Homo sapiens: one gene and its partners. The protein of the gene in region 4 purifies or fractionates together with the protein of the main gene of each other region. This does not show direct contact. Each region holds a gene or a part of one and is shown on either strand. Other genes may lie near its edges.

The links.
Region 1: the proteins of SIRPD (region 4) and CLPTM1 purify together in Homo sapiens (affinity purification with mass spectrometry; one large-scale study listed by BioGRID and IntAct). This does not show direct contact.
Region 2: the proteins of SIRPD (region 4) and SIL1 purify together in Homo sapiens (affinity purification with mass spectrometry; one large-scale study listed by BioGRID and IntAct). This does not show direct contact.
Region 3: the proteins of SIRPD (region 4) and ZNG1A purify together in Homo sapiens (affinity purification with mass spectrometry; one large-scale study listed by BioGRID and IntAct). This does not show direct contact.
Region 5: the proteins of SIRPD (region 4) and TMEM131 purify together in Homo sapiens (affinity purification with mass spectrometry; one large-scale study listed by BioGRID and IntAct). This does not show direct contact.
Region 6: the proteins of SIRPD (region 4) and METRNL purify together in Homo sapiens (affinity purification with mass spectrometry; one large-scale study listed by BioGRID and IntAct). This does not show direct contact.
Region 7: the proteins of SIRPD (region 4) and PROS1 purify together in Homo sapiens (affinity purification with mass spectrometry; one large-scale study listed by BioGRID and IntAct). This does not show direct contact.

What each region holds. Positions count from the first base shown.
Region 1 is NC_000019.10:44,957,856-44,962,127, forward strand, and holds part of CLPTM1 (putative lipid scramblase CLPTM1), read left to right. Parts: intron 1-4,107; coding exon 4,108-4,220; intron 4,221-4,272. UniProt on the Homo sapiens protein: Involved in GABAergic but not glutamatergic transmission. Binds and traps GABAA receptors in the endoplasmic reticulum (ER).
Region 2 is NC_000005.10:139,191,246-139,195,517, reverse strand, and holds part of SIL1 (nucleotide exchange factor SIL1 precursor), read left to right. Parts: intron 1-4,272.
Region 3 is NC_000009.12:171,991-176,262, forward strand, and holds part of ZNG1A (zinc-regulated GTPase metalloprotein activator 1A), read right to left. Parts: intron 3,795-4,272; coding exon 3,708-3,794; intron 1,377-3,707; coding exon 1,280-1,376; coding exon of another isoform or gene 1,276-1,279; exon of another isoform or gene 499-1,275; intron 183-498; coding exon 91-182; intron 1-90. UniProt on the Homo sapiens protein: Zinc chaperone that directly transfers zinc cofactor to target metalloproteins, thereby activating them.
Region 4 is NC_000020.11:1,554,644-1,559,592, forward strand, and holds the start of SIRPD (signal-regulatory protein delta isoform 1 precursor), read right to left. Parts: upstream 3,063-4,949; 5' UTR 3,011-3,062; coding exon 2,938-3,010; intron 1-2,937.
Region 5 is NC_000002.12:97,755,286-97,759,114, reverse strand, and holds the end of TMEM131 (transmembrane protein 131 precursor), read left to right. Parts: intron 1-61; coding exon 62-222; intron 223-1,731; coding exon 1,732-2,016; 3' UTR 2,017-2,779; downstream 2,780-3,829.
Region 6 is NC_000017.11:83,085,640-83,089,911, reverse strand, and holds part of METRNL (meteorin-like protein isoform 1 precursor), read right to left. Parts: intron 1-4,272. UniProt on the Homo sapiens protein: Hormone induced following exercise or cold exposure that promotes energy expenditure. Induced either in the skeletal muscle after exercise or in adipose tissue following cold exposure and is present in the circulation.
Region 7 is NC_000003.12:93,893,370-93,897,641, reverse strand, and holds part of PROS1 (vitamin K-dependent protein S isoform 2 preproprotein), read left to right. Parts: intron 1-950; coding exon 951-1,066; intron 1,067-4,272. UniProt on the Homo sapiens protein: Anticoagulant plasma protein; it is a cofactor to activated protein C in the degradation of coagulation factors Va and VIIIa. It helps to prevent coagulation and stimulating fibrinolysis.

The DNA of each region.
Region 1 (4,272 bases), on a different chromosome or scaffold from region 4:
CTAGGCCTTTGCTGATGCTGGAGATACAGCTGTGAATAAAATAGGTGCTGCCCTCTTGAAGGCCCTTACACTTATGTTCTAGTTGGAGCTGAATTTATAGGGGAAGCACAGACAGGGACACACAGTGAACAAGATAAATAAGAAAAACAGCAGTTCAGATGGCTCTGCGTGCCATGGACAGAAATAAAGCTGGGATGGGGATAGGAAGTGAGGGGTGGGTAGAAGAGTTGCAATTAAATAGGGTAGTCTAGAAGGCCTCTCTGAGGAGGTGACGCTTGAACAAAGACCTGAAGGAAGTGAGAGAGGGAGTCCCAAAGATACACGAGGGAAAAGCTTTTCAGGCAAAGGAGCAGCCAGTGCGAAGGCCCTAAAGTGGGAGGTGCCTGGTGTGATGAAGGAAGGGCGAGGAGGCTGGAGCGGGTGAGGGGAGAGGGGTGGCTGGGGACAGATGCAGATTATGCCAAGCTTTGGAGGCCATGGGGAGGACTTGGCCTTTACTCTGAGGGAAATAGGAGCTGAAAAGAGTGACTCTTTTTTTTTTTTTCTTTTTTCTGAGACGGAGTCTCGCTTTCTCACCACAATCTCGGCTCACTGCAACCTCCGTCTCCTGGGTTCAGGCAATTCTTCTACCTCAGCCTCTCAAGTAGCTGGGATTACAAGCACCTGCCACCACACCCAGCTAATTTTTGTATTTTTAGTAGAGACAGGGTTTCACCAGGTTGGCCAGGCTGGTCTTGAACTCCTGACCTCAGGTGATCTGCCCACCTCGGCCTCCCAAAGTGCTGGGATTTCAGGCGTGAGCCACCACGTCCAGCCTTGTGGTATAATTTAGATGGTATAACGTTCACCTGTTCTTAGGATAGAGTCCATTGGCTCCTGGTCCATTTATGCAGTTGTGTGGTGCAGCCATCACCACAGTCTGGTCTGAGAAAGCTTCTGTCCCCTCAAAAAGTTCCCTTTTACAGTCTCTGCTGCTCCCAATCCTAGGCAGCCACAGAGGTGCTATCTCTGTAATTTTCTAAAAATGTCTTAAACAAGGATCTAAACAACATCCAGTCTTTTGTGTCCAGCTTCTTTCATTGGGCATAATGGGTTTGAGGTTCATGTTGTTACATAGATCTGCAGTTGTTCATTTTTATTTTATTTTTTACAACCTAGGATCAGGGAAATTTGGCCTTTGGGGAAATCCTAAAGTACGTGCTCACAGTTGTTCCTTTTCACTGCTCAGTGGTAGTCTGCAGACATGACACAGTTTATTCTTTCAGTCCTTGAAGGATATTTGGATTGTTTTTAGTTTTTGTCTGTTGCCAATAATGCTGCTATGAACATTCATGTACAGGCTTTTCTGTGGCTGTATTTTGTTTCTTTTTTTTTTTTTCTAAGTAAGAGAGACAGGGTCTCCCTGTGTTGCTCAGGCTGGTCTCGAACTCCTGGGCTCAATGGATCCTCCTGCCTTGGCCTCCCAAAGTGCTAGGATTATAGGCATGAGCCACCACACCTGGCCACTGTTTGTTTTTGAGACAGAGTCATGCTCTGTCGCCTAGGCTGGAGTGCAGTGGTGTGATCCTGGTTCACTGTAGCCTCATTCTCCAAGGCTCAATTGATCCTCCCGTCTCAGCCTCCTGAGTAGCTGGGACCACAGGCATGCACTACCACACCTGGCTAATTTTTGTATTTTTATAGAGATGAGGTCTTGCTGTGTTGCCCAGGCTGGTCTTGAACTCCTGGGCTCAAGCAGTCTTCCTGCCTTGGCCTCCTGAAGTTCTGGGATTATAGGCGTGAGCCACTGCGCCTGGTCTGGCTTCATGTTTTCTGCCTCCTGGGTAGCCATTCAGGATGGGTTTGCTGGATTGTGTAGTAGGTGCACATATGACTTGTTCAATAACTGCCATATTTTCCGAAGTAGCTGTACTTTTACTTTCCCCCCTAGCAGCATACGAGGGTTCCTGTTTTTCCACATCCCTGCCAGCACTTGTGATTGTCTTTCTGCTGATAGCCATCCTAATAGGTGTGAAGTGACACCTCATTGTGGTTTTAACTTGCCTTTCCGTGGGAAGGTTCCCAGCCAGATTGCCCATCACTAACGGGTAAGCGAAGAGACCTGGGAGTCAGTCAGATGCAGCTTCAAATCCTGACCTGGCATCAAGTGTCCTTTCCTGACCCCAAATCAGCTCAGACCCATTGAAACCCATACTTGGACCCCTAAATTTCCCAATAGCTAGGCTGGCCTTGAGGAGGGGGCCTTGTGCCTGTCTGATTTCCCTTCCCCAGCCGACCCCCGCCCCATAGATCTCCTCATCAGAATGTGGCTTTCTCTGTCTCAGCCTAAGGGTCTCACCCAGACGACCCAGACGTCAAAGGGAGCTCCTCAGGGAGGCCTCTCTGACCACCCACTCCAAAGTGGATCCCTGTTCCCAACTCAGTTGCTGTCACTTCCCCCTGCTTGTTTTCCATGTACCATTTTTAATTATCCTGTTTACCGTTCTAGTGTGTTTCCTTCTAGATCCCCAGCTCTGGGTAAGCAGGGCCCAGATTTCTGTCTAAAATGTTCCAGTATTTTCACAACCTGGTCCACAGGTCAGAGAGGTGAAGTGATGTGCCCAAGGTGTCACAGCCAAGAACGGTGGGACCAGGACTATAGCTGAGGTCTGTTTGACCCTGGAGCCCCTCCAATGGTGTCCTGTGCTTTGGGAGATTACAGGAAAGAGCTCTTGCTGGTGAAGGGGACAGGAGGTGACAAGTGACACATTTAACACATGTAGCCCCTCTAACCATGCTCCTGGGACATTTGCTATCTGGTGGGTAAGGTGAATGGAGAAAACATTGCAGAGGAGTGGACTAGGGGCTGTGGAGGAGAGGGCCAGACACTGGAGCCTCAGAGGGAAGTGGGTTTGGGTGACCTGAGCGTCCGGGGTGAGTCCTTCAGGCAGCGGTGGCCACACAGGTGTTTATCACAGCCTTGCTCTGTGCCACTGGTGCTCTTGAGCTAACTGTGACTGTGATAGCCCTGGTCCTGCCTCTTGAAGGCTGATGGCTGAGGGGACAGCTGGGAGGAGGGGTGAATGAGAACAGGACTGGGGAGCTAGCAGGGTGCGTGAAGGGTGAGCAGAACATCCCCTTCCAAACCTGGCATTCAGAGAGTCTCTGATTGTGACCTTCTGTGTCTGAGTGAAGAGTCCTCCTCTGGGAAGCCGTGCCTGGCTCCCTTGCCTGCCCCCCTTCCCTTCTGTCATTCTGCTTCTGCGGTCCTTCCTGAGTGACCAGACAAGTGGCTTCACCTCTCTGAGCCTCCCTTTGCTCAGCAGCCGGATGGAGCTGGTCATAGTTTTGGCCTCAGGATTAGTGTGCTGTGTGCTGTCACAGACATGTCTTGTGGCCGTGGCTTATGGTAGCAGCTGATAGTCTGGTTGTGTTTTTCTGTGTCTGTCCCACCTGCTGGACCAGGGGCCCTTGGAGGGCAGGGTTGGCCACAGAGGGGGCCTCAGGAATGGTTTGCCCAGGGAAGGCTCTTTCAGCTAAGCCCCAGCCTTGAAGAATCTGGCACCTGCCATAAGACTCCTTCTGTTGTTGTCCCCAATAGCCACCTCCTTGCATCCTGGCTCCAGCCCCAGGGAACAGTGGACAGTCATCAGAATCAGACTGTGCCTCTAATCTTCTGTTTCTGCACCTGCTGCTTCTCTCACTTCCTCCTTTGTGCCACCAACTTGCTATGTTTTAGGTCTCAGCTTCAATGCCCCCTTCTCCAGGAAGTTGCCCCGAACCCTAGACTGGACCAGGTGCCTCTCAGGGCTCCTGCATTCCTGCCCCGTTCTGGACAGTCACTGTCTAGAGATGAATCTTTCTCCCCCACCGGGCTGTTAAACCCCAGGAGGACAGCAAAAGACTCTCTAGGTCACCACTGTCCCTAGGTCACAGAGGTGCTCTGCGAGTGTTTTCCTCCTAAAAGAAGAGGACCGCACCTTCCCAGGTGTTTTCACTGATTCATTCTCCAGTTATTGATAAGCACCCACTCTTTGCCCAGCCTGTGCCTGGCCTTCATGCATGATGGTGTCTAAGACAGCCCCCGTGTCCATTCTCCCTCCTTACCCTGGCCTCTGTCCCCCACAGGTGACCAGCAATGGCAGCATCGGGAGGGACCCGCCAGCGGAGACCCAGCCTCAGAACCCACCGGCCCAGCCGGCACCCAATGCCTGGCAGGTCATCAAAGGTGTGCTGTTTAGGTGAGCAGACGGGACTTGGGTTTGTTCACCGAAAACATTCAAATAAAAATAA
Region 2 (4,272 bases), on a different chromosome or scaffold from region 4:
TACTCAGGAGGCTGAGGCAGGAGAATGGCGTGAACCTGGGAAGCGGAGCTTGCAGTGAGCGGAGATCACGCCATTCACTCCAGCCTGGGCGACAGAGCGAGACTCCGTCTCAAAACAAAACAAAACAAAACAAAAAAAACTGGGAATAATATTTACTTTGAAGGGTGGTTAAATGACGTATTACACATGAAAGCTCTTGGGACATAGGAATGCAATAAATGTTTTCACCCTCAAAGAATGAAGATTTGCCGTTAATGAGAATATTCAAAAGAACATGAGAGTCTCTGGCCGGGTGCGGTGGCTCACACCTGTAATCCCAGCACTTTGGGAGGCTGAGGTGGGTGGATCACCTGAGGTCGGGAGTTCAAGACCAGCCTGACCAACATGGAGAAACCCCGTCTCTACTAAAAATGCAAAATTAGCCGGGCGTGGTGGCGCATGCCTGTAATCCCAGCTACTCGGGAGGCTGAGGCAGGAGAATCACTTGAACTCGGGAGGCGGAGGTTGCAATGAGCCGAGATCATTGTGCCATTGCACTCCAGCCTGGGTGATAGAGCGAGAGATTCTGTCTCAAAAAAAAAAAAAAAGGCTCTGAAAGGAAGTTGTACCTTTTTCGAAATAGGTGGATTCTCTTTTTCACATACTTGTGGATTCATACTCTGACCTGCTCAGCCTCCCCCTGTCTTTCTTCATTCATTTTCTGTCCTTTCCTAAGTGAAGTTTTGCTGCAGAGGCTGTCTGCCAGTCTCTTGTAGTAAGCCTCTTTTCAGGAGAGCTAATCTGAACTCTCTTACAATGCTAGTCCCTTAGTCGCTATTCCTAGGGATTTTTTTCTGGGGGCTCCAGATGGTGCTTGGATCACGCTCTGTAGCACAGCCATCTCTAACTCCTGGATTTGGTGTCAATTTGGAGACCCATCCTGTGGAGCTAATCTTCTCTCTTTCTGAGCAAGGATGAATACTTTATCCTTTTCTGAGTCGGCCTTAAACTGCAAACCTTAGTCTTCTACAGCAGAGAGTCTTGTATTTTAATTATACGTAGACTAAAGACGGAATAGCATGCCCTTTTCTTTTCTTCCTTTACTTTCACCAAGGATTTCACTGCTGAGTAGGGGAGTAGGAGAATAGCCTGTTGCCATTCAGAGTGAGGCCTTGGGTAACCCCTGATTCCTAGCATAAGCAATAACTGAGTTCATCTTTGGGACAAAAACCTTGTAAAAGATTCGGGCTGCTCAGACACATGTGGAGAACCTCAAGCTAGGAATTTTCCTAGCTTGTGAGGAGTTTACACCTGGCATTCTTACTTTTGCAAATTTGTACCCAGAATCCAGTAGCAACAAAACTATATTCAGCCCAGACTTGTAGTTCCTTCAGGTTCCACCAGGCAGCTGTAAGACATGGCTGTGATTATGCTGGCTGGCCATGTTTGCCTTCATCCTCCTAATACTGCCCTTGGCTTTGGTATTGAGAAGGAAGTGGCATAATCAATTCATGAGTAACATTCTCTGCCAAAGTGGAAATCAGGGGCAGAGAGTTGTGAGCATAGGACTAGACAAATGGAAAGAGCCAGCCTTGCCTCAGGAATGCTGCTAAAGTGCTGTGAATCCGTGACAACCACTGTGTTTCTTGGTGTCACCTCATTTGTGAAATGGGAATGCCTTCATTGATCTCTCTCTTGAGAAGAGTGGACCACCATGCCAGTTTTCCCAGGACAGAGGGATATCCGTATGTGGGACTTTTAGTGCCAAAAGCAGGAAAGTCCGGGGCAAACCAGGACAAGTTAGTTACCCTACCCATGACCATTATACAAGTTAATGAACACTGTGCCCTTAGGGTTCATCTAAGACTCAACCCTTTGGGTTCATCTAATTATTTTTCAACCTTTTGTTCATTATCATATTTTGAGACTTTTTTTCCCTTAATTGTCTACTCCCCAGTGGAATGTTTTTTTGAGAGGGAGTCTCACTCTGTCGCCCAGGCTGGAGTGCAGTGGTGTGATCTCTGCTCACTGTGGCCTCTGCCTCCTGGGTTCAAGTGATTCTTGTGCTTCAGCCTCCTGAGTAACTGGGATTATAGGCGCCCACCACCATGCCCAACTAATTTTTGTGTTATTTAGTAGTAGTTTTTGTGTTTTGCCATGTTGGCCAGGCTGGTCTTGAACTCCTGGCCTTAAGTGATCTGCCCACCTCAGTCTCCCAAAGTGCTGGGATTACAGGCATGAGCCATCGTGCCCAGCTACCCCCAATGGAATTTTAATACCACAGATGTACTGTGTATCTGTTTTTGTATTGTGGCCCTTTGGATGGCCACAAACCATTGTAATATCTAACTTTTTTTCCCCCAAGAATCAATTTTCACCCCTTCTGGGCTGTTACTGCACTCACTGAGAATGCATGGTCTTATCTGATATTCTTTCTTTAATGTAGTCATCAAGGCCAGTTTTTTATCCAGAAGAAACAGCTAGTACCACAAGCTTTTTCGTTTCCTTTCCTGTTTTTTTTTTTTTTTTTTTTTTTTTTTTGAGACTGAGTTTCGCTCTTGTTGCCCAGGCTGGAGTGCAATGGCGTGATCTTGGCTCACTGCAACCTCTGCCTCCTGGGTTCAAGTGATTCTCCTGCCTCAGCCTCCTGAGTAGCTGGTACTACAGGCATGTGCCACCACATCTGGCTAATTTTTTTTTTTTTTGGTAGAGACAGTCTCACTGTGTTGCTCAGGCTGGTCTTGAACTTCTGGGCTCAAGCATTTCTCCTGCCTCGGTCTCCCAAAGTACTGGGATTATTAAGTGTGAACCACCACACCCAGCCAAGTTTATTCTTTATTGTTTTAATTTTCTTCCAGTCTTTGGATTTTGAGGTGGTCCATTTATCATCTGCTTCTCTGGTGCCTCTTGGACCTTCCATCTTCACAGCTGGGGCTGCTGTGTTGGCCCAGGTGTCCCCAGACTGGACATCGGAACCTTTGGGAAGAGTCTGATGTTTGGCCCTTGTCACATTTCACATTTCACATCTACAGAGAAATGGGGAAGGGTATGTTTCTGAGGTCTGCTCATAGGCTATGTTGTGACTGAGGAAGTTCTTGATCATCCCTTTTGGTTACCACTTATCATCACTGGCAGAAAAACATCAAAGTGGTCAGTGAACTCATCTCCACATCTGGCTACTTCCATCTCTGCAAGTAGTTTGCTTCTTCAGTCTTGTGATGGGAAAGAGATCTAGAAACTGGAAGAATAATCTGAGATACATCCTAAAGTTCTGGTGAGGAAAGCTAATGCCAATGGACTTTTTTTTTTTTTTTTGAGATGGGGTCTTGCTATGTTGCCCAGGCTAGTCTTGAACTCCTGGGATCAAGCAATCCTTCCACCTCAACCTCCTGAGTAGCTGGGATTACATGCATGTACCACCATGCCTCACTCGCCAGTGGATTTTTTTTTTTTTTTTTTTTTTTGAGACAGCATCTTGCTCTGTTGCCCAGGCTGGAGTGCAGTGGCACAATCTCGGCTCACTGCAACCTCTGCCTCCCAGGTTCAAGTGATTCTTCTGCCTCAGCCTTCCGAGTAGCTGGGACTACAGGCGCCTGCCACCACGCCTGGCTAATTTTTGTATTTTTAGTAGAGATGGGATTTCACCATATTGGCCAGGCTGGTCTCAAACTCCTGGCCTCGAGATCTGCCGGCCTCGGCCTTCCAAAGTGCTGGGATTACAGGCGTGAGCCACTGTGCCTGGCCCTTTTTAAGAGGGTCTCACTCTGTTGCCCACGCTGGAGTATAGTGGTGTGATCATAGCTCATTGCAACCTCCAACTCCTGGGCTCAAGTGATCCTCCCACCTCAGCCTCCCAAGTAGCTAGGACCATGGGTGTGCACCACCATGCCTGGCTAATTTAATTTTTTTTTTTTTTTTTAAAGAGACAGGGTCTTGCTTGCAACATTGCCCAGGCTGATCTTAAATTCCTGGCCTCAAGTGATGCCCTACCTTGGCCTTCTAGAGCACTGGGATTACAAGTGTGAGCCACCATGCCCAGCTATACCAGTGGGCTTTTAAATGGACATTTCTTTACCTCTGGGGATAGTCTCATTTTTGTGAGGCTCCCAAGGGGAAAGCAGCCATCTGACCAAACTAGAAAACTAGCAGGCTTCAGCCCAGTGGAATAACATAAAGTAGGACAATCGATACAGACAACATTGATTGGCCATGCTTTGAGTGCTGTGGATAGTGTGTATTGGAAGCTTAAGGGGCCAGCTCATAAGTAAGTTGTAAGTAAGTATTTAAGGATGC
Region 3 (4,272 bases), on a different chromosome or scaffold from region 4:
TTTAATCCTCATTTTAGATATTCCTCTAATACATCTATTTACAATATATCACAGAACTATATTCTGGTTATTAATAATCTCACTTCTTACCAGGGTCTGCTAATCCAGTGGTCTCTAACAGTATGTAATCAAATTTCCCCTTCTTTTGCATCAAATTCTCAATAGCTCTAAGGCCACTGTCCCTGGAGAATACCAAAACATAATTTACAGTTAATTACCTAAATATTTTGAAGTGATTATTATAAACACTTTAAAATATATTCAACAACCCGAGACAAAAGTACCCTTGGGAATGTGAAAATTTAACTCACTTCTAACCTTCTAACAAAATGTCCGTCCCATATTTACCAGTGAGAAAACAATAGATGCATATATATAATAGGTAAAAAGAAATCATATACATAATACTTTATCAAAATTAAAAGCAGAGGAAACTTTATCTGACCAAGTATCTTTTTATAGCTTTATGAAATTTTTAAAAACCAACATACAAAATAATGATAAAATGTATTAACTATAGTAGTTTAATATAATAGCTAAAGAGACACTGATATTAAACACCATATAATTCTATTTTACATTAGGATGCAAGGTTTTAATTTCCTTTTTTCTTATTTTATCAAAAGTGAAGGAAAATCCTTAATAGATTATATTTTGGTTGTTCAAGAAAGTCTGTTATAATTTTATCCTTGCCAAAACATTTGACACAAAGTCAAATACCTAAGGGAGTAAATGATGCCGAAGAGATTTAATTCACTAGAATACACAAAATTAACAGTACAAGTAGTCATTTTTATAATTCATTCAACAAATATTTGAGTGCTACTATGTGTTGGGTAACTCTTCTAGGGTCTATGGTAGACTAGTGAACACTGTCCTTGAAAACTTAACTAGTAGAACATAACGTAAGGTTTTTCTCTTTTTTGATAGTCATTTATTTTTTTTATAAGATTGAACACTTAGAAGTATGACCAATGACAGATTAAATTCAGAATAATCATTTTTTACATATGAGACTTTCATGCACTAGAGATTAAATAAGCCCTGACATCAAAAGCAATAAAAACTCAATAAAAGGACCAAAACATTAGAGCAGATAGAAAAGACAGCAAGAAACACTTTAAGAAAATGCTTCCTAATAAGTTTATTTTCTATTTGTTTGAAAATACAATGAAGCAAACTGTGTAAATTCAGTTAAATTACTCAAGAAAATTAAAGCTGGAAATATAATCAATAAACATTTCTAGTAAACCATGTACACAGTAAACACATTCCTCACTTCACTGAACAGCAGAGGCAACCGTTTCTAAGTTCCAGCCACTCTTCATAGAGCTCTCCACCTTGGCTGACAGCTAAGGATTTCTCCAGCGCACTTCCTAGAATAATTAACAAACAGCACTCTTTAGCTTATGTCCATTAGCCAAAAAAAAACAAAGATGAGGATAACTCAATAATGGAGATCTTAAAGCAGAAACTGCATTTTATAACTTATATTCTTTCATTTTATTCATGCAGCCTCGATATCTAAATTACAGTACACTACATTATTTTAGCTTTTATTTAAGATGACTTAAGCCCTGAAAAAGACACATCCTAAACTGATAAACATACCTACTTCCTCCTTAGGCCTCTTACTTGGCCACCCCCATTTCTTAATAAAGTAGCTATCTTGAAGGCATTTTTTTCTTGTCCAGGGTAAACTTTCTAAATAGACCAGTATGTTTTATATACTGGATTTTGTATGCCCTTCAACCTCTTAAGAGACTGCCTTATCTATCTTTTTCTTTTCATTCTTCTTCTAAATTGTTTCTGTTAGACAAACTGCTGAATATTCCCAATGAGTAAAAACCCTAGTTCATCTTGAGGAAGGTTTTTGGCCAGTGTACCACGTGCTCATTTAAAAATTAAACTTATAGGGAGGCCAAGGCGGGCGGATCACGAGGTCAGGAGACCGAGACCATCCTCGCTAACACAATGAAACCTCATCTCTACTAAAATTACAAAAAATTAGCCAGGTGTGGTAGCGGGTGCCTGTAGTCCCAGCTACTCAGGCGGCTGAGGCAGGAGAATGGCGTGAACCCGGGAGGCGGAGGTTGCAGTGACCCGAGACTGCGCCACTGCACTCCAGCCTGGGCAACACAGCGAGACTCCATCTCAAAAAAAAAAAAAAACCTAAACTTTTAGTCAAATTCACATATTTTCCTAGCAATACTTACTTAAGAAAGAATAAACTACATTTGAAATGCTTGTTATCTATAAGAATTATTTTAAATGTTTTACTTTTCCTCTAATAAAGAAATATACCAAACAGTGAAGTTCTAAAAGCCCACTAAGCAAATGAGCTCCCATAAAATCGAGTAGTTTTACACTTACATATTTTTTATATTTCAGCTAGGTATTAATAAAGAGCTTCTAAAGAGGTTGCTACAGAATTTGGACTATATACAGAACATTAATGAAACATGAAGAAAAGTATTGAGAATGCTGTGAAAAATAAAATTGCAAAAATGATCCAGGAAAAAATAAAGAAAATAGTAAGAATAAATGTAATCAGTGTGCAATAGGTTATTTAATAAGATGATGAAAAAAACAGTCTGTTATTAGAAATCTCAGGATTTTTGCCTAAAAAGCACTTTTCTCTTTCGTTTATTAAAACCAGAAATCGAATATAACTGGCTTCCCATCCTGTTCATAAAACCTAGCTCTTTTACTTTTTACAACTGAAAAAAAATAGTACATTTTAAAAGAAATCGTTTAATAGATATTGTTTTTTGGCTAGAAGTAAGCTTTGATTACAATTCATACTTATGAAGAAAAACTTCTATAAAGATAACAGAAGTATTGTGTCTAGAGCTATTTTTTTGACTACAGTTTAATATTTCAGTTGAGAAGTTAAGCACACTTATTTTCACAGATAACTTAAAATACATGAGGATAAAGACCATATGTTTACCTTTATTTTTAAAATATTGAGTTTTAACTGCATTGCAGATAATAAACATTAAACAAAGTTAACTAATAACAGAAGCATTTTCAAGTATTTTTCATGAGTTGCAATAGAGTCCATACAAAAGTGCTTTCCTAATTCCTAAAAAAAACATTTTTTCGCCAGGCATGGTGCCTCATGCCTGTAATCCCAGCAACTTTGGGAGGCCGAGGCGGGTGGATCACAAGGCCAGGAGCTCAAGACCATCCTGGCCAACATGGCGAAACCCTGTCTCTACTAAAAATACAAAAATTATCTGGGCATGGTGGCGCACGCCTGTAGTCCCAGCTACTCAGGAGGCTGAGGCAGGAGAATCACTTTAACCCAGGAGACAGAGGTGGCAGTGAGCTGAGATTGCACCACTGCACTCCAGCCTGGCGACAGAGAGAGACTCCATCTCAAAAAAAATAAAATAAAATAAAAAATAAACGTTTTTTCATATGTCTAGATTTTTACTTCTGGAGTCATTTATTTCATGTAAAAATGTAGTTTAATTCTGTTAATAAGAATTCCAAAGTTATACAAAATAAAATTTTATTAAAACTAATTTCAGTATCTCAACCCATATAAATCTTAACAGAAATTAATCCAACTTTTCTAAAGCTATCCACATCAATACAATACCTTGCATTTTCATTTTTAAATATGGAATATCAATTCACCAGAGGAATAAACAGTCACACAAAATCTTGCAACATGACATTTATTGAACTTTACTTACCTTCCCCAAATTCATTTAAAATGACCGCTACTCTTTTACTATGTTGCTCTGTCAAAATATAGTTCAGAAGTGTTGTCTTCCCAGCACCTATAAAACATATTTTTTGTAAATAAAAAAATTCAAAATAATTTTAAAGATACAAAAAACATATAAAGAATCCTAACGTTTTTGAGAATTTGCGTGCTATTTTTCATATATTATTTTAGCATAGAATATCCTAGAGGATAAGATTAAAGCATCCTTCGAAACCTGTTGCAAAATACTTTATGTAGACATAAAATTTTATAAATATTTACAAACACTCCTACAAGTTGAAACAGCTTCTTCAACCTAGCCTAACCTTCCCTAAAATTTACACACAATCTTTTATTTATAATGACCTTTTATTTCAACATTAACAAGACGCAACTTCAGGCTGACTATATGGCTACTTATAGTATGCTTTAAACAATCTATAAAAGTTTTTATGAAATGGGGAATAGAGCCAGGTAGTGTCAACAATGGACAGAATGTTCAGTAAGATAAATTCATAAAGCTATACCAACTTTATCCAGCAGGTGGCATA
Region 4 (4,949 bases):
CAGGGATACTGCCCCAAGCTAAGGACAGTATGTTGATAACCAACATACTGCATATGGAGTGACCTGCATATGGAGGCAGCTCCCTCCCATACCGGGTGTTCTGTGGTGTGAAAGGCCACTCATTCACCTCTCCCAGAGTAAACACTGAGGCATGCATTCTCAATGAAGTTGCTATTTTCCATAAAAGGTCACAACTGGTTTTTGGAGTGTAGGATTATCTTAGATATTACAATGGTTGGTTTGTCAATGATCAATTCTACCAAACAAAATCTTATTCCTTAGTACTTAATTGCTCTTGTGTATTCTTGGGTAGCACACAAGCCACACTGACATTGAGTTCATGGCAGATACACAAAATGTCTACAAGATAAGTTCTACAAAATTGCAGTTATTCACAATAGCCAAAATATAGAAACAACTGAAGTGCCCATCAATGTATAAAGGAATAAAAATGTGATTATACACACACATACACACACACAAACATGCAGTAGAATACTATTTAGCTTTTGAAAATCAGAAAATTCTGTCACTTATGACACCATGGATATTATGGTGTGAAATAAGCCAGGCACAGAAAGACAAATACCACATGATCTTGCTTATATGTGGAATGTCGCTTATATGTGGAATCCAAAAAAGTCAAACTCAAAGAAGTAAAGAATAGAATGTTGTTACCAGGGTCTGGGGTGGTGGAGAGTTGGACAAGGAAATGGGAGATGCTGGTCAAAGCCTATAAAGTTGTAGTTAGACATGAGGAATAGGTTCTGGTGATCTATTGCACAGCATGGTGACTATAGTTAATGCATACTTCAAACTAGCTAAAAGAGTAGATTTTAAATGTTCTTACCACAAAGAAGTGATAAGTATGTGAGGTGATGGATATGTTAATTAGCCTGATTTGATCATTTCACTGTGTAGACATGTATAAGAACATCACATTATACCACATAAATATATACAATTATTATTTGTCAATTAAAACCAAGATAAAATTTAAAAAACCATCAAGTTGTACACCTTTAAAAACAAATAAGTTCTACAAAACAATGGAGGACTTTATTTTGAATGGTTTTGCCATCTTACTCGGTATATTCCTTTTCTATCGCTGAATAACAAATTACGACAAACTTAGAGGCTGAATACAACACATATTAATTATTTCACAATTTTTGTCCATTTGTAATTCAGATATAGCTTAGCTGGGTTCTCTGCTTCAAGGTCTCACCAAGCTCCACTCAAGGTGCCAGCTGGGCTGTGTTCTCATCTGGGGGTTTGACTGGGGAAGTGTTCATTCTAAGTTCACTCAGGTTGTTGGCAGAATTCAGGTCTTTGTGGTTGTAGGACTGAGGCCCTCAACTTCTAGGGGCTTCCCTCAGTTCATTGCCATGTGGGCCTTCTCACAGGCAGTTTGCAACATGGCTCCTTGCTTCTTTAAGGCCAGAAGTTGCAAAAAAACTCTAGTGTGATAGATCTTACACAACCTAACATACTCAAGGGGGAGACAGTGCATCACTTTGGCCATATTCTATCAGATAGAAGCATGTCACACACAACTGAGATTACATAAGGGTGGGATAGTTGGGAGTCACCTTACAGTCTGTGTACCTCACCCAATAAGTACAGTTAAAAATTCAAGTGAGTTTTACTAGCTTTAAGTATCTTAAGTTAGCTTTTACCTAAATATTTTTAGTCATCCTTAACTCTCCATTGAATAAAAAGAGGAAGCTTTATAGTTACCCTTCCTATGTATAAAGCACAGACAGATATAAATGCAGTACATAAACCAACAAAGAATATATCTAAGTTATTAAAATTTCATGTTGAGGCTATTATGAGTTGAATTGTATGCCTCCGAAATATATGTTGAAGTCTTAACCACAAGTAGCTCAGAATGTGACCTTACTTGGAAATAGAGTTACAGAGGAAATCAAGTTAAAATGAGGTCATTGAGGTGGGTGCTAATCCAATATGGTGGATGTTTTTATAGGAAGTGGAAATTTGGACACAGAGACAGACATACATGGGAGTAAGATGATGTGAGGATACAGGGAGGGTGGTGCCACCTGCCATCCAACAAATGTTTGAGGCTACCACTGCTAGAAGCTCAGAGACAGACATGGAACAGATTCAACCTCACAGTCCTCAGAAAGAACCAACCCTGCCCACACTTCGATTTTGAATATCTAGTCTCCAGACCTGTGAGAAAATTAATTTCTGTAATTTAAACCACCCAGTTTGCAGTACTTTTTAAGAGCAGCCAAATGCAGTGGCAACAGAGAAATAAAAAACTGAATTTCACAGAAAGAAGTGTAAAATCTGCCAGGGGCCAGGTGTGGTGGCTCACGCCTATAATGCGAGCACTTTGGGAGGCCGAGGCAGGTGGAACTCTTGAGCTCATAAGTTTGAGACCAGCCTGGGCAACATGGTGAAACCCCATCTCTACAAAAAAGACAAAAATTAGCTGGGCATGGTGGCGCGTGCTTGTAGTCCCAGCTACTTGGGAGTTGGAGGCACGAGAATCACTTGAGCCCAGGAGGTGGAAGTTGTAGTGAGCCAAGATCGCACCACTGCACTCCAGCCTAGGTGACAGAGTGAGACCCTGTCTCAAAAAAATAAGTAAAGGTAAAAATAAAATAAAATAAATTACACCCTCCAGAGGCTGGAGGGTGAGAGCTGTGATGGATGCTGTGCCCCGCCCTGTGACCATAGGTGTGAGTCGTTTACCTGAGCAAAGAGATTTGCAACAGACATGGCCACCGGGAGACTTTGTCAGAATTGGGGACCATCCCAGTGTAGTCTTCTGAGTTCTGCCTGTTCTGGGATAAGATGGAGAAAACCCTCCCAAAAGAAATTCTATGGGAACAGGTGAGGGAGAGTTCACTAAACAGGCAGAGGGGAGAACCCACCACACACATACACTGAGGCCCCACTCACCTGCCAGTTCAAGCAGCAGATACAGCAGTAAGGAAGGCAGAGGTGGGTGGAGTGGGGAGGCAGGGATGGGCATTGTGGTGAAACCTGGAGCTTGCTCTGCCTGAATGCCTGTCCTGGAGATGCCCTCGACTCAGTGCTCCGAGCAGAGAAGACAGTTCTTGCCTCTGTGATGTCAGAGGAAGGGGATTGTGATGAGAGGAAAGGCCAGGGGACTGGGACACTTTTTCCTTTGTGATTATAAAATTGAACAGACAAGGTTGCTTCAAGCTAGGAAGTTGCTGCTGGAAGTATTTAGCTTTGCTGGGGCTGGGGGGCTTGACACCCACAGCCTTATACTCCTTCCTGAGTTTCATCCCATCTCACAGGTTCTCCCCAACTTCATGGCCTTTGCCTATCTAGGAGCCTCAGACACATAGGCTAGACAAAGGCCTCATCCACATGATGCGCAGGTATGGGTCTAGCTCCTGCATGAGCTCAACATCTGGGCCTGTCTGAGCTGCACAGCTGAAGAAAGAGACAAGATGTCTATAGCCTCACCCACTTGGTAAGAGTTGGACTTTACAATGGATGCCCTTTCTTGCACTCCAGAGTAGTTAGAGGTAAAAAACAAGCAATATCTGCTGTGGGCTCTTGGCTTTTCTGTGGGTCCCTCCATACACTACCAGGAACTGCTTCCTTTTTCCTTCCTGCAGAGGAATCAGGCATGGCTGAGAAAGACATTCGAGTTGTGCAGGTGGTGATGATTTGTGCTTTAGAGGATGGAGGAGGCCTGCAGGGAAGGCGGAGCTGCGGGGAACACTCTCTAGGAGGGAGAGTAACATGCCTACAAACACCTGGGAAGGTGAGGGCTGCCTCTCCTGCTTGGGCTGGACCTGGGACCAGCTCTCAGAGATGGGATTGGAGGGGCAGAAGAAATGCCCCCAGAAAGAGGGAGGAAGCAGCATGTTGGCATCCTTCTCTCTCAGCTCTGGAATGGGTTCTTCCTAAGCACAAATGTTGTGTTCAGGGACACTCAGCCCACACTCAGCTGGTGACCCTTTAATGTCCAAGCATCCACAGGCAGGCACTGGCTGCCATGGCTGTTTCCCCATTGCCTCCTCATGACTTCTGCCTCCTCCTCAGGAACCAGCTAGATGTCAGGGCCGGGAGAGGTGTTAGACCCTCTAGGAAAAGAAAGCAGAGCCAGGCTGGCACGTTCTCTCTGAGACGACAAGAGTCCCCATCCCCTTGTGATGTCATCATCCTATCCCGTTGTTCTGAAATGATGAATTCCACAAAGGAATTCCTATCCATGGCCCCTGCTTGGAACTAGACAGGAACATTCCTCCAGCCTCCATCATCCTCCCCTTCCCCTACTCTGAGGAATCTTCTCACCTTTCATTAGACTCTAAGTTCCTTGGAGAGTCAGTACTCACGGGTCAGTATCCAAGAGTGCCAGCTTTGGAATCAGATATAATCTAGGCTAGAATCCTGAACGCACCTCCTAAGAGCTGAGTAATCTTGGGCCCATGATACAGACCTGTATATTCTGCAACCTTCTTGACATCTTCATTTGTATATATATATATATATGTATTTTTTTTTTCGAGACAGAGTTTCGCTCTTGTTGCCCAGGCTGGAGTGCAATGGTATGACCTCGGCTCACTGCAACCTCTGCCTCCCGAGTTCAAGTGATTCTCCTGCCTCAGCCTCCCGAGTAGCTGAGACTACAGGCGCCCACCACCACGCCTGGCTAATTTTTGTATTTTTAATAGAGACAGGGTTTCACCATATTGGTTAGGCTGGTCTCGAACTTCTGACCTCAGATGATCCACCTGCCTCAGCCTCCCAAAGTGCTGGGATTTCAGGTGTGAGCCACTGAGCCTGGCCTCTTTGTATACCTTAAATATTCAAGTTTGAGTTTCAGATCTGCACTCACAAACCTTATCTTCTCCCACACCATGCCTGTTTTGTATATGGTACCATCATCTAAGCAGTTTGTCAAACCAGGAAGGGACTCATGTTCTATACCC
Region 5 (3,829 bases), on a different chromosome or scaffold from region 4:
TATGCTATAGTGATCATGGCAAAACCAAATATGGACTTGATGACTGTTGCTTTATTTCCAGAAGTTTTCAGCAAACTCGGATTATCTCGATCGTGCAATCAGGCCTCACAGAGGAGCTGGAACGAGTTTAATAGTGGCCCTTCATACCTTTGGGAGTCGCCAGCGACAGATCCCAGTCCTTCCTGGCCAGCCAGTTCCGGCTCCCCGACCCACACAGCCACAGTGAGTACTTGGGGCTGGGGCTGGGGCCTGGACCTGGCCCACCCACTCGCCATCTGCCATTGCTGTGACATGGATGGCACTGACATAGTTATAAACAACAAACAGCAGCATCAGAGGGGTGGGTTAGTACTTTTATTGTCTCCATTGCTTTGTCTTCATATTCTGTCAAAATGACTGATCGATGTTCTTCAGAGCCATTACAATCAGGAAGTTTTAGGAAGAACAACTGAACAGCTATGGGGTTGGTCTCTGGAGTCCCTCCTAATAGCTCAAGGGCATTTTCTGCCTCTTCCCAACCTGTAAATGGACCACAAGGGTGACCATAGGCCTATGGCAGGTTCAGATGGTTGAGGGAAGCCTTCGGCATCTGTGCAATGCAGCCACTGGCCACCCAGGAGCAAGCTAGATACTGCATTTACTTTGTTGCTGAGAAGCACCTGTCTCTTAGGTTAGATTTTCAAGAGTGCATTTGTTTGCTTCTTGGCTAAAGTCTTCTGCAAAGACCATGCTGAAAAGAGTATTCTTGCCAAGGAAAATAATTAGTGGTTTTGGCTTCCACAAAATTATGACAGAAAAATATGACCCCACTGTGTTTGCCTCTTTGTTCTCAGAGAAACTAAACATGCAAGGTTTTATAACAGATATTTCAACTTTACAGATTCCAAAGGTTGTCTTCATGTGTAATTATTCAGCCTTATGTTTTAAAACCACCTTAACCATTCTTTAAAAGAGAAGTCAGCAAACTTTTTTTTTTTTTTTTTGAGACAGAGTCTTGCTCTGTAGCCCAGGCTGGAGTGCAGTGGCACAATCTCGGCTCACTGCAAGCTCCGCCTCCTGGGTTCATGCCATTCTCCTGCCTCAGCCTCCTGAGTAGCTGGGACTAGAGGCGCCCACCACCACACCCGGCTAATTTTTTGTATTTTTAGTAGAGACGGGGTTTCACCATGTTAGCCAGGATGATCTCGATCTCCTGACCTCGTGATCCGCCCACGTCGGCCTCCCAAAGTGGGAGTCAGCAAACTTTCTATAAAGAGTCAGATAGTAACTATTTGAGGCTCTGAAGGCCATGCTTCACCACTGCCATTGCAGTGCACAGGCCGATGGGCGCAGCTGTGTTCCAATACAACTCTCTTTACAAAAGTAGGCAGAGCTGGATTTGGTCCACAAGCTGTCTTTTTTAAAATATCACAACTAGCCGGCATGATGGCTAGTGCCTGTAATCCCAGCACTTTGGGAGGCTGAGGTGGGAAGATCACTTGAGCCCAGGAGTTTGAGGCTGCAGTGAGGCATGATCACACCACTGCACTCCAGCCTGAGTGATGGAGCAAGACCCTGTCTCAAAAAAATCAGAAACATCTGCTCAAATACATATATATAACATTTGTTCTAAAGTAAACAAAGTAAGAGGAATGCGTGCCCCAGCCTCATCTTTTCTGTAGCCTTACCCCCTTACCCACTTGACCCTCTGCCTGCCGGGCTCAGTGCTGGACGCTTTCTGTTTTGTCGCAGTCGGTCCTCGGTAACACCAGCGGCCTGTGGTCCACCACTCCATTCAGCAGCTCCATTTGGTCCAGCAACCTTAGCAGCGCCCTTCCCTTCACCACTCCAGCAAACACGCTGGCAAGCATCGGCCTCATGGGCACAGAAAACTCCCCTGCTCCTCACGCTCCCTCCACCTCCAGTCCAGCTGACGACTTGGGACAGACCTACAACCCGTGGCGGATATGGAGCCCCACGATTGGAAGAAGAAGCTCGGACCCTTGGTCTAATTCGCACTTTCCTCACGAGAATTAAATTAAGCAAAAAACAAACAAACATAGTGGGCCCTCGTCTAGATCATGATGTGCCAGTTTCTGAGACATCTTTTTAAGGCTCTTACTGCAGCTCCCCTCCCCACCCTCCTCTTCTTTGCAAAACAGACCCAAGCAGGGCAGGCTCAGACCACTCGCTTCTTTCAGATCTTTCTTGCAATTATGATAACATGAGATTTGCTGTTGTGCTTTTAGAGAAAAGTCTGGACTCAGCCACAAACTCTAATAAGACCTGTACATCTGAGAACCTTTCCCGTTACTGCGTTTTCACCACCTGTCTTCCCCATGCTTTATTTATCTGTATGAACACAGATTTGACATTACAGCTAAGGAAATAATTTGAGTTGATTCAGAAATCCTGGCATGTGACAATTTTGTTAAATTACCAAGTTTGGTTTTTAATAATTTCTCAATATTATGCGCCAAGATCTAATTTTAAAACTGTATGAGGACTTTGTGCTGAAAATAGAGTATTTTTTTAAAGTAAGGCTGTCTTGGTTTAAAAGCAGATTACAGAAATGTAAGTCAACTTAAGAACGGTGAATGAATGTAAAAACATTCAGTTGAGACCATATGCATTTTCTGTGCTGTTTGTACTTGAGGTATGTAACATTTGTATACCTGAACTTATTTTAAAGATGAACTGAAATGCACATAGCCAAGTCTTGAGATACAAGATTGAATGTGTATTTCTTAAAAATACAACTTTGTGTTGTACTTTGAAATAAATGATGCTTTTTTCAAAAGCCTTGTTTTGTGGTTTTTTTTACACACAAGGTGTATTTATTAGGATTTTCTCACACCAAAGTAAACCACCTTATCCTTGCCTTACTCTGTGGAGCTGACAGGTTAAGACGGGGTTTGCCTTCTCATTGCTGGAACTTCCTGCAGTCTAATGGAGTTCTGTGTGTTCCCATGGCAATCATGGAGGGTCCTTGATCGAAAACAACTTGAAAGCCTGTTTGGATTCATCCAGTAAGCGTTTTCCCTCTGCCACTATCCTAAAAGGCCTCATAAAAAGCAGTAATTGCTACCATTTATTGAATACTGACTCTGTCAGGTACCTGGCTAACACTTTGGGATATGTTGGGTTACTCCATTATACTTGAGGAACCTGGCTGGGCAGTGCTGGCTCAGAGGCCCCAGGTCAGGCTGACCGCAGATTCACATGGCACCCACTGTGCTGCCTTCCTTCTGGTCACAGTCACCATTCTCAGGAACAGTCTGTGTCCAACTCACCACTGCATGTTCTAACACTGGCCAACCTTTACCAGCCTTCAGTCTGAGGAAGTTGTATGGTGAGAGGAAGACAGAAAAGGAGAGAAGCGGGGCACAGAGGGAAGACAGCAGGGGCACAGAGGGAAGACAGCAGGGACTCGGGCAGCCTGGGGGAGGGCTCTGGGGGCCACCTGTGGGAGCTTACCAGCAGCAACACAGCATGCAGTGCCCCTTTGGCCCTTTCATTTCTAAATGATGGCTTGGAGACAAGGGGGGATGCCTTGGGCTATGGCACAGGGGCTGGGGGTACTAGAAACAGCTATTTACCCACTGGTATTAAAATGCTTTAGCAGTTTACCTGCTAATACAGCTATACCCCAAAGCCAGGCTGGATGGAAAGCAACCTGTGTGCTACTGAGGAATGGAGCCACAGGTGGCAGTCACACAGGGTGCCATGTAGAAATACCAGCTGGGGCTGCTGGAAACGGAGCCTTGGTGCAGACTGGAAATGACTTAGCCAAGCCTGTAAGGTGCAGTAGTAAAGACTACACATCTAAATTTTATTTTTTTTCTTTTAA
Region 6 (4,272 bases), on a different chromosome or scaffold from region 4:
GACGGTCAGTGCCTGCAGCCTCGCCTGCTAGAAGCCTCTGGAGACGACCCAACGACAGCTGAGCTCGTAAGGAGCACCCTGGAGACCTCCCTGTTCTGATTCTGAGCTTTACAAAGCAGAAGTCACCTTCACGGAGAATGCAGGGTGGACGCCGGTGGACGCCGGGAGACAATCGGGAGACAATTATTAACAGGAGCCAGGCTCATAAAGGCTGCGGAACGCGCTGCTCACGGACACATTGCACCTCGTCTCCAGGGCGGTGGGGAGGGTCGGCAAAGGGTTGGAATCCTGGTCCATCCTCCTCGGAGGGGGAGGGCTGGGGTGTGGACATCTCAGGCAGGTCTCTCAGGAGCTAGCATGAACAGGGTGGGAGGGACCGGCAGGGTGGGGTTGGGGACGCTGCTGCGGGGACTTAGATTGCACGGCAGGTGTTAAGTAGAGAGGCAGGACCGGCTGGTTCCGAGGAGAGGCTGAGAATGACAGACACCGACCGGTCCGGCAGGACTGCCCAGGTAAGGACAGCCAGAGGGACTCACACAGTTCCGACGGGAAACCTCTGTGGCCACGATTACTGGGTCTCCCACACAGGTGGTGACGGGGTAGCGGGGGGACACGCTGCTTTTAGAGGAGCCGGTGACGGGGATAAGGTGCTTTCAGAGGAGCCAAGAACAGGGAGCAGTGGGTAGGGGTGGAGGGTGGGCTCCAGTGGGCTCGAGGACCCAAGGCTGAGCTCCCAAGGCTCCCCTCAAGGCCACCATCATCACCGTCGCGCTGCGGCCGCACTCCAGGCTGCAGTCCATTGCTGGGGTGCCCCGGGGGTGTTGGCCCCATAGCCCCTGCCCTTCCCCCTGCCTCCCTTTCTCCCTCCCTCTTCCTGGTGAGGAAGCTGGCGGGGGCCACACCCTTCCTCTCCACAAGCCCAGAGATGGTTAAAATGAAAATTACAGTGGCCGGAGAGAAGGCACCAAGCAGGAAGCCAAAGATGGACGAGAGATGGGACGCCTTGGAAAAATCAGCCCCTCTCCTCTACTTCCAGGAAATAATGAGAATTATCTTCCACACTTTTCCACCCATCCCTCCCACCCATCAAGGACTTCTCCAAACTCTGAGGCTCCTGGAGGGGGCTCATCGGCAGGGGCTCTGCGCCCGCCGAGCTGGTCATTCACCTACGGGCTCAGCCAGGGGCAGGATTTTAAAGGGGGGAGGCGTTGAGGCCCCTGAGACGCTGCAGGACTCCGGCGTCCTGGAGAGCCAGGGACGGCACCACGTGCTCATGATCAGCATCAAGGCAGCATCCCCTCCCCTCCCACTGCCTGTGTCCACGATGCTGCTGCCCGGCCCTGGGCACCTGCTCACTGGGGCCTGCATTGGGGGGCCTTACACAGAGCCTGCACCCCAAACCCCAAGCACAGATGTGGCCAAGCCAGGAGCATCTGACACACAGCCCTGGGAGAAGCTGAAGAACAGACTGGAATCCTGGGACCTGCCTGGACTGTCTCGGGTCTGTGTACCCCAGAACCAGACAGCCCCCACCCACATTCCCCAAGCCACTGAACGGTGCCCGTTTCCCGGATTCCCTGGCCTGCAAACAGCAGCCCCACACGGCCTCAGCCAGGTCTGCTGGGCACAGGTCTGGGCACGGCCGGAAGCTGCACCTGACCACTCTCTGCCACCCCCATCCTGCGGGGTTTCCTCAGCATCCAAGGAAGGCGTCCGTGTCGCCTGCAGAGGCGGCTGGTGCAGGGCTGAGAGGTCCTGCCCGTAGTCAGCCAAATCCCAAGGTCCTGGGGCCGGGTCCCCTCCCGCCTGGCCCCCAGTGTGTACCCCTGGAGGAGCAGCCTGCCCCCGTGTTCCGGCCAACTCTTGGTCATCGGCGTGTCTCAGTTTACTCAAGGAAGCCGATTATGCAGCATGAACGCACCACGATCACACCAACGAAACCCACCGGAGCGGGGGATTTCCTCCTGGCTGGGCAGGGGACGGGGCTCACACACCCTCTCCTGTCCGGGGTTCCAGCCCACGGAGCCTCTGTCCTCCTGAGTCAGCACAAACTGGAACTTCTGACACACAGACGAGCTCGTCCACCTCCCGTGGGTCGTGCTGCCAGGCCAAAGGCTCAGGCTCACCTCAGGCTCGGCGGGGCTGGCGCTGCCCGGCTCAGCCTCCGTCGGCTCTCGCAGCTACAGCAAGTGCAGGAACGGGAGGCAAGGGAAACCGCGGCGCTGGCCGGAGAGTGCTGGGGAGCCGGCCTGGCCCAGGGGATGGCGTCACTGCTGCCAGACGGCCGGCACCGACATTCCACATTATGTACCCATTCCTGCAGCATTAAAGGCTTAGGGGCCCCCGTCCCCTGATGAAAGGCGAATACCCTGGGGAGAGGAGAGGTATCAGCCTCCTCGGATCCCTCCTGCCCCTCCACCCCATCAGGATAGGAGAGGCCTCTCGTGAGGGCCCTGGAGGTGCTCAGCCCAGGGAGGGGCCTGCATCTGTGCCCGTTCCCGTGAGATGCCAGGCGTGGGTCCCAGCTCCGGGGGCCCCCGGTGAACCTCAGAGTCTGGGCCCCTGTCAGTTCCGAGGATCCCTGCATGTCTGCTTCCTCGGATAAGCAACCCACCACCCACAGGGCACTGGAAATCACCTCAGGCTCGGTTTAAGCAGATGCCGCAGGGTCACCAAGTGTAAACAAGGAAACCCAAGCACCTGCCTCACAGGACACAGCAAAGTTCTGGGACCCCAAGCCAGCCTGACGTGTACTGGGGCCACAGACCTGCGCAGGACCCCACAGGCCCAGGAGGCACACGGAGGGTGAGCGAGGACCCACCGCCGAATGCCTGCTCTGGTCCCTTGGGGCTCAAGTCACTCCTCACAAGAGGCCGCTGCCTCCCTGCAACCCCACAGGACCCCAAGGCAGCTCAGCCCCTACCATCCCATGCCTCTCCCAAACCCACCCACCGCCCCAGCCTACACAGGGCCTGTAGGCCTCGGACCCCACCCCCAGAGGCAGGAGAGACAAAGTCTCTGTTCCCAAAGGTGAGGGCACAGGCTCCGTAAGGGTCGCCCCAGCTGACAACTAGAACCATTGAATTTCCCCTGGAAATGTAGAAATCGGGCCTGTGCCAGTGTGGACGTCCAGGTGTGCGTGGCAGGGACGGACTACACCACAGCCTCTCTAAGAATCTCACCCAGAAGCAGAACAAAGCTCAGGCCACAGAGCATGTGACCCGCAGCCCAACGTCTTCAAGACCAATCACCACTTTAATCAGCAGAAAGAATGTTTGCAAGTTCCTAACATCTGGCCCGGCACCTTCTACCTCCGGTTAGAAAGACTGAACTTGGAGCTTGGATTTCTCCAGGTTTCGCCTCATTGTGAGTTTTTCTCCAGGGCCCCCAGAGCAAGGCTGGTACCCCCTCCCCCAGGTCTCCCACCCACCATAACTGTTGGTGACCAAGATAAAGGCCGCCGTGGTTAAAGTTTTATCCAGCGTGCAACCAACCACAGCACAGCTGAGTTTACATCAGCGTCCAGCCCTGCGGGTGCTGAGGCCCAAGGGGCAGTCTGAGCTCATGGGCCAGCTGGGACTCGGGGCAGTCAGGACTCCAGGCAGACGGTCCTACACTCACTCTGTAAATGACCAGTCTACCTGGGAGAGATTTCAGAGAGAGATGAAAAGTAATCTAGGCCAAGAACATAGAACACAAAAATGTGGATTCCCATTCAGGATAGAAGTCTGTACACCCGAGTCCGAGGCCACACAGACCATGGAGGTCACACGGCCCACAGGTGCCTCCCAGGACCTCATGCCTCCTGGTGTCTACCCACAGAATTTTCTAGAGACCAACACAGCCCTCCACGAAGGACCTCTCCCCCAAGCACAGGCGTCCAGAGACGCCACGTGACACCTCCACTCCCTGCCGGCCACACAGGGAAGCTGTCTGTTTATCGTACCCACAAGACCCCTCTGGGACGGGGGTGGCCCCATGTTCTGGGCGTCACAGCTCAGCACCGCTCAGGGCTGAGCCAGCCTCAGCTCCCACCCAAAAATGGACGTTTCAGGGTCTTTAGCCGACACCACAGACACCCAGCCAATTCCCAGGGCAGTTTGAATGGCAAAAGCACCCGTTTCAAAGGTGCTACACGATCCACAAGCATGGGGGCGCGTCCGACCCAGCACTGGCCCGGCCGCCACAGGGGGATGCTCACCATGCTCCCCAGACACACCTCCAGGGAGAGAGGCCCCGCTCGGCCAAGGCCATGCCGCCCGAAACACTAAC
Region 7 (4,272 bases), on a different chromosome or scaffold from region 4:
GTCCAGAAAAATGTCACATTCAATAATATGCAACCTACTTGGTAATAAGCTAGTTGGCATTTGTTGTAATTTTGGTACGTTACTACTTAATTGAAATGCCATGCTGTGTGAACATCTATTTTGTAATTTAGTCCTTTATTATTTCTGTATTTGGTGTAGTTACATATCACCGTCTGCCTTGAAATAGATTTATTAAAGTTTTAAGGGGAAATAAAATGTTATTTCTGGGCCTATATTTAATATAGTGCTATGTACGTAATTCTCCTCAAAATATCCTCATATGTGTTCAATAATTTGTATGTTAAAAGCTTTTCATTTTAATGTTTGTTTTCACTCGTAGAAAAAAAATACTTGATACCATATGTGATGACTTTAAATAATGTTCTTGTAAATTCCTTGGAGACTATGAGATCTGAATTTATATTTATTTCCTTCATGTTTTCCAGTATTCCCTTTACTATCTAGATAGCACATTCTTGCTCAGAAAACTTTTGCTTAATAAATGAATGAGTGAATGAATGAGGTGCTGTTTATTGGTACATTAATTCTTACACCTATTTCTGACTTCAAATAAAAATAATTTTCAGACATAATTCATGGGAGATAATATACCTGACTGTTAATTAAAGAAATATATATTGGTTCTTGAAGAAAGAGTTTGTGTTTAGGACGAAAATTTGCAAAGGAAGTATTAAAGACAAAGATCGAAAGCCATGCACATTGAACGAGGCTTTAAAACACATGTATTCTTGGAGGTTATACTGATAGATAGACTATACAAGGAAATGGAAGATATGTATTTATTATTACCAAAAATATTCTTAATTATTTTAGTGTATTACAGATGATACATTAGTAACCAAACAAAAATGCATGACCTCACACAAACATTAAGCAATAACCTGTGCATTTTGATTTTCTTGTTGTTTATTTGGTTTCTTTTATTCCAGGTTGTTTCAGTGTGCCTTCCCTTGAACCTTGACACAAAGTATGAATTACTTTACTTGGCGGAGCAGTTTGCAGGGGTTGTTTTATATTTAAAATTTCGTTTGCCAGAAATCAGCAGGTGAGGAACCAATACCAATGATAATTTCTAGAGGTTAAGCAGATAAGGGCAGAAGAAAAGTGGCCGAAAAGGTTTGAAGTGTGTGAAATTGTATTACCTATCAGATAATGTAGTCATATTACCAATCAGATGACTTGGGGAAACCTAAAGTTAATTTACTCCTTCACACATGTAATTTTCATCCTAAAACCTTTTTGAGTCATTCTAGGCTGACTTTCCCCAATGAACATTTTACATTATTCCATATTATTCCTTTTGTAGAAAATGCATATTTACTAAGAAGCTGGGAAAGTAGATTTAATGTACTTGTGAAATTTCCATTATTCTTTACACATGTTATGAAAACCAGGTAATAAAAAATACTCAGTATTGCTTTTAGAATATCATTATATTCAAAATTATTAAGGAAAAAATTTAAACTTGCTTAAGTGGCATTTTAAAGACATATATTACATAATTTTAGTTGGCTGTCTAAATACTTTATCCATTATTATCGTACTTAGATTGAGTTCAGAAATGAAGTAAATGCTTATGTTTTTTAGTCATGATTCCACTTATTTTTATAGCAATGTTTATGATCCAATTTTTATTTTATTATATTTATTTATTTTTGAGACAGAGTCTTGCTTTGTTCCCCAGGCTGGAGTGCAGTGGCGCAATCTCGGCTCACTGCAACCTTCGCCTCCCAGGTCAAGCAATTCTCCTGCTTCAGCCTTCTGAGTAGCTAGGACTACAGGTGTGAGCTGCCACACCCAGCTAATTTTTGTATTTTTAGTAGAGACAGAGTTTTACCACGTTGCCCAGGGTTGTCTCAAACTCCTGACCTCAGGTGATCACCTCAGGTGATCTGCCATAATTGTACTTCAGTTATCAGATTTTCTCAGAAGCATACATTGCTGGAAGTAGAAGAAAGAAATTGGATTTTTTTTGGAATAATGAGAAGGCAAAATACTTGAGACAGATTATACAGTTCAAATTTTAAAATATTTTAATTAAATAAGCATGTATGTTTAGAACTTGATGTTAGATACATGAATGATTATTCATTAAATAATTCAACTAAATTCATAGACGTTATTAAAAACATTGAAAATTATTCTAAGATCAATAACTTACATAAATACTTAAGTAACAGTGCTCCTTCCACACTTTATTTCTGCCAATATGTGGTTTTTTCCTTTAACATCACAGAGCAACTAATATCTTCTAATGATAGAGATTGGAGAAAACTCTTCCCTGCTATGAGAATAATAATGAGAGAAAAATATTAGTTCTAGTAAATAACACTTTTAGGAATACAATTGATCCTCCAAATCCTTGAGTTCCTCATCTGTGGATTTAACCAACCTCGGGTAGATAATATTCAGAAAAAAACACAATGACAATACAATACAAAATAATACAAATGAGACACAATACAGTATGACAACTATTTACATACATTTGCATTGTATTGAGTATTATACATAATGTAGAGACGACTTAAAGTACGTGAGAGGATGTGCATAGGTTATATGCAAATACTATGCCATTCTATATAAGGGACTTGAGCATCTGTGGATATTGATACCATCCAGAGGTCCTGGAGCCAATCTCCAGGAGTTTGTTCATTTCTCACTGACGATTCATAGTAGTTTGATCTCTAACATGGGATCAGAATTGGACAAATTATTTTTTCCAGAATTTATTATTTATTTATTTTAAACTTTTCATTGAAATATAAAGTATGTACCGATATGTACACATTAGATTAAATGTATAGCTTGATGAATTTTTATAAACTGCCCCTTGTGTGATCAACACAAAGAATAGCTAGTGCTTTTATTTATTTTTGCAAATTTCTTGACGTCTGTTGCTCATGATCAAATACTTTCCCTCCGTAAATGTCAACAAATTCATTCTATTTTCCTGTTTACCATGCTTGTGAAAAAGAATGAATTGTTCCCCATTGTAATGAATCAATATGCTGCTGATATATTCCAGAAACAAAATATGCAGAACATGACCCTTTGAAACTATGATTTCAGCCTGATTTTACAAAGAAAAGGAAATTATCTCCATAATAGAATCAACTGCTGGAAGATCCTGAGCATACACAGATTTGGATTTTGGCAAGATAATATTGCTTCACATCAGCAAAATGCTCAGATAATTATGAAAGAGCATAGAAGTCCTTATTCCAAGCAAAATTGTTCTTTTTTTCATAATCTGAGTTCAGTAAATTCCTACTACATTGTTATCCATCCAACATACTTTACTCCACATTTTACCTCTTTTTAAATATTTCTTTGGAATTCTAAAGATGAAAACATTCATTTTGTCACCTTTTCTTTGTTCCATTTGAGGGAGATACGTGCCCCATTGCAAATGGTGCCTCTATTACTATTACTATTTTACTATATTGCGGTAAGAGTGTGGGATTCTGTCCTGCCTAATATAGCAATTATCTGAAGTCCAGACTCTTTAACTTAAATTGCCTTTATTTTAAGTTAGGTGACTAATAGTTATACACCTATTGTTCCTTTTCCCTGTTTGTCTTTCGTCAATCATGTGGATTTGCTAGTCCCTTGGAAACTTCAATGCTGATTCTCATTGAAGTGTTTTAAGGATACTGAATCAACACATGTTATTTTAAGTCCTGCATCCTAAGACTTTTCTCCCCTGTAATAGCTACATATATGTCTAGAGTCTTAATAGCAACAGATGTTGCCAGCACTCAGATACCCCCCAAACACATGGGTAGACTATGTCTTTTAAGTTTTCCTTCTGTGTATTCTACAACAGTGACTTATGCAACTGGAGTTTTAGGAAAGCTAATAGATATATTTTAAGTTTTTAAATTTTACCTTTCTTACCACACATGAAGGCTTAATGATGTCTGCAGTCATCCATGTGCCATCTTGTAGATCTCCACGAGTGATTCCTGACATGTGAAATTATAGGGAAAATATGCCTTTTGATGAATAAACCAACGATGAAATTGTAACACATTTTATGATCACTTATGGATACAGCAAAAACAAAAACAAACAAAAAAGAACAACAACAAAAAAAACTACCACTTCTTAATGTCAGATTATATAGTGTATAAAAGGCTCCAGGAGAGATATAGTATGCCTGATACTTATACCTGTGTATTAATTTCAGCATTTGGAAGGTGCTATCAAAATATATGTCAAAGAAAGATGACAAATTACCAAAGCATC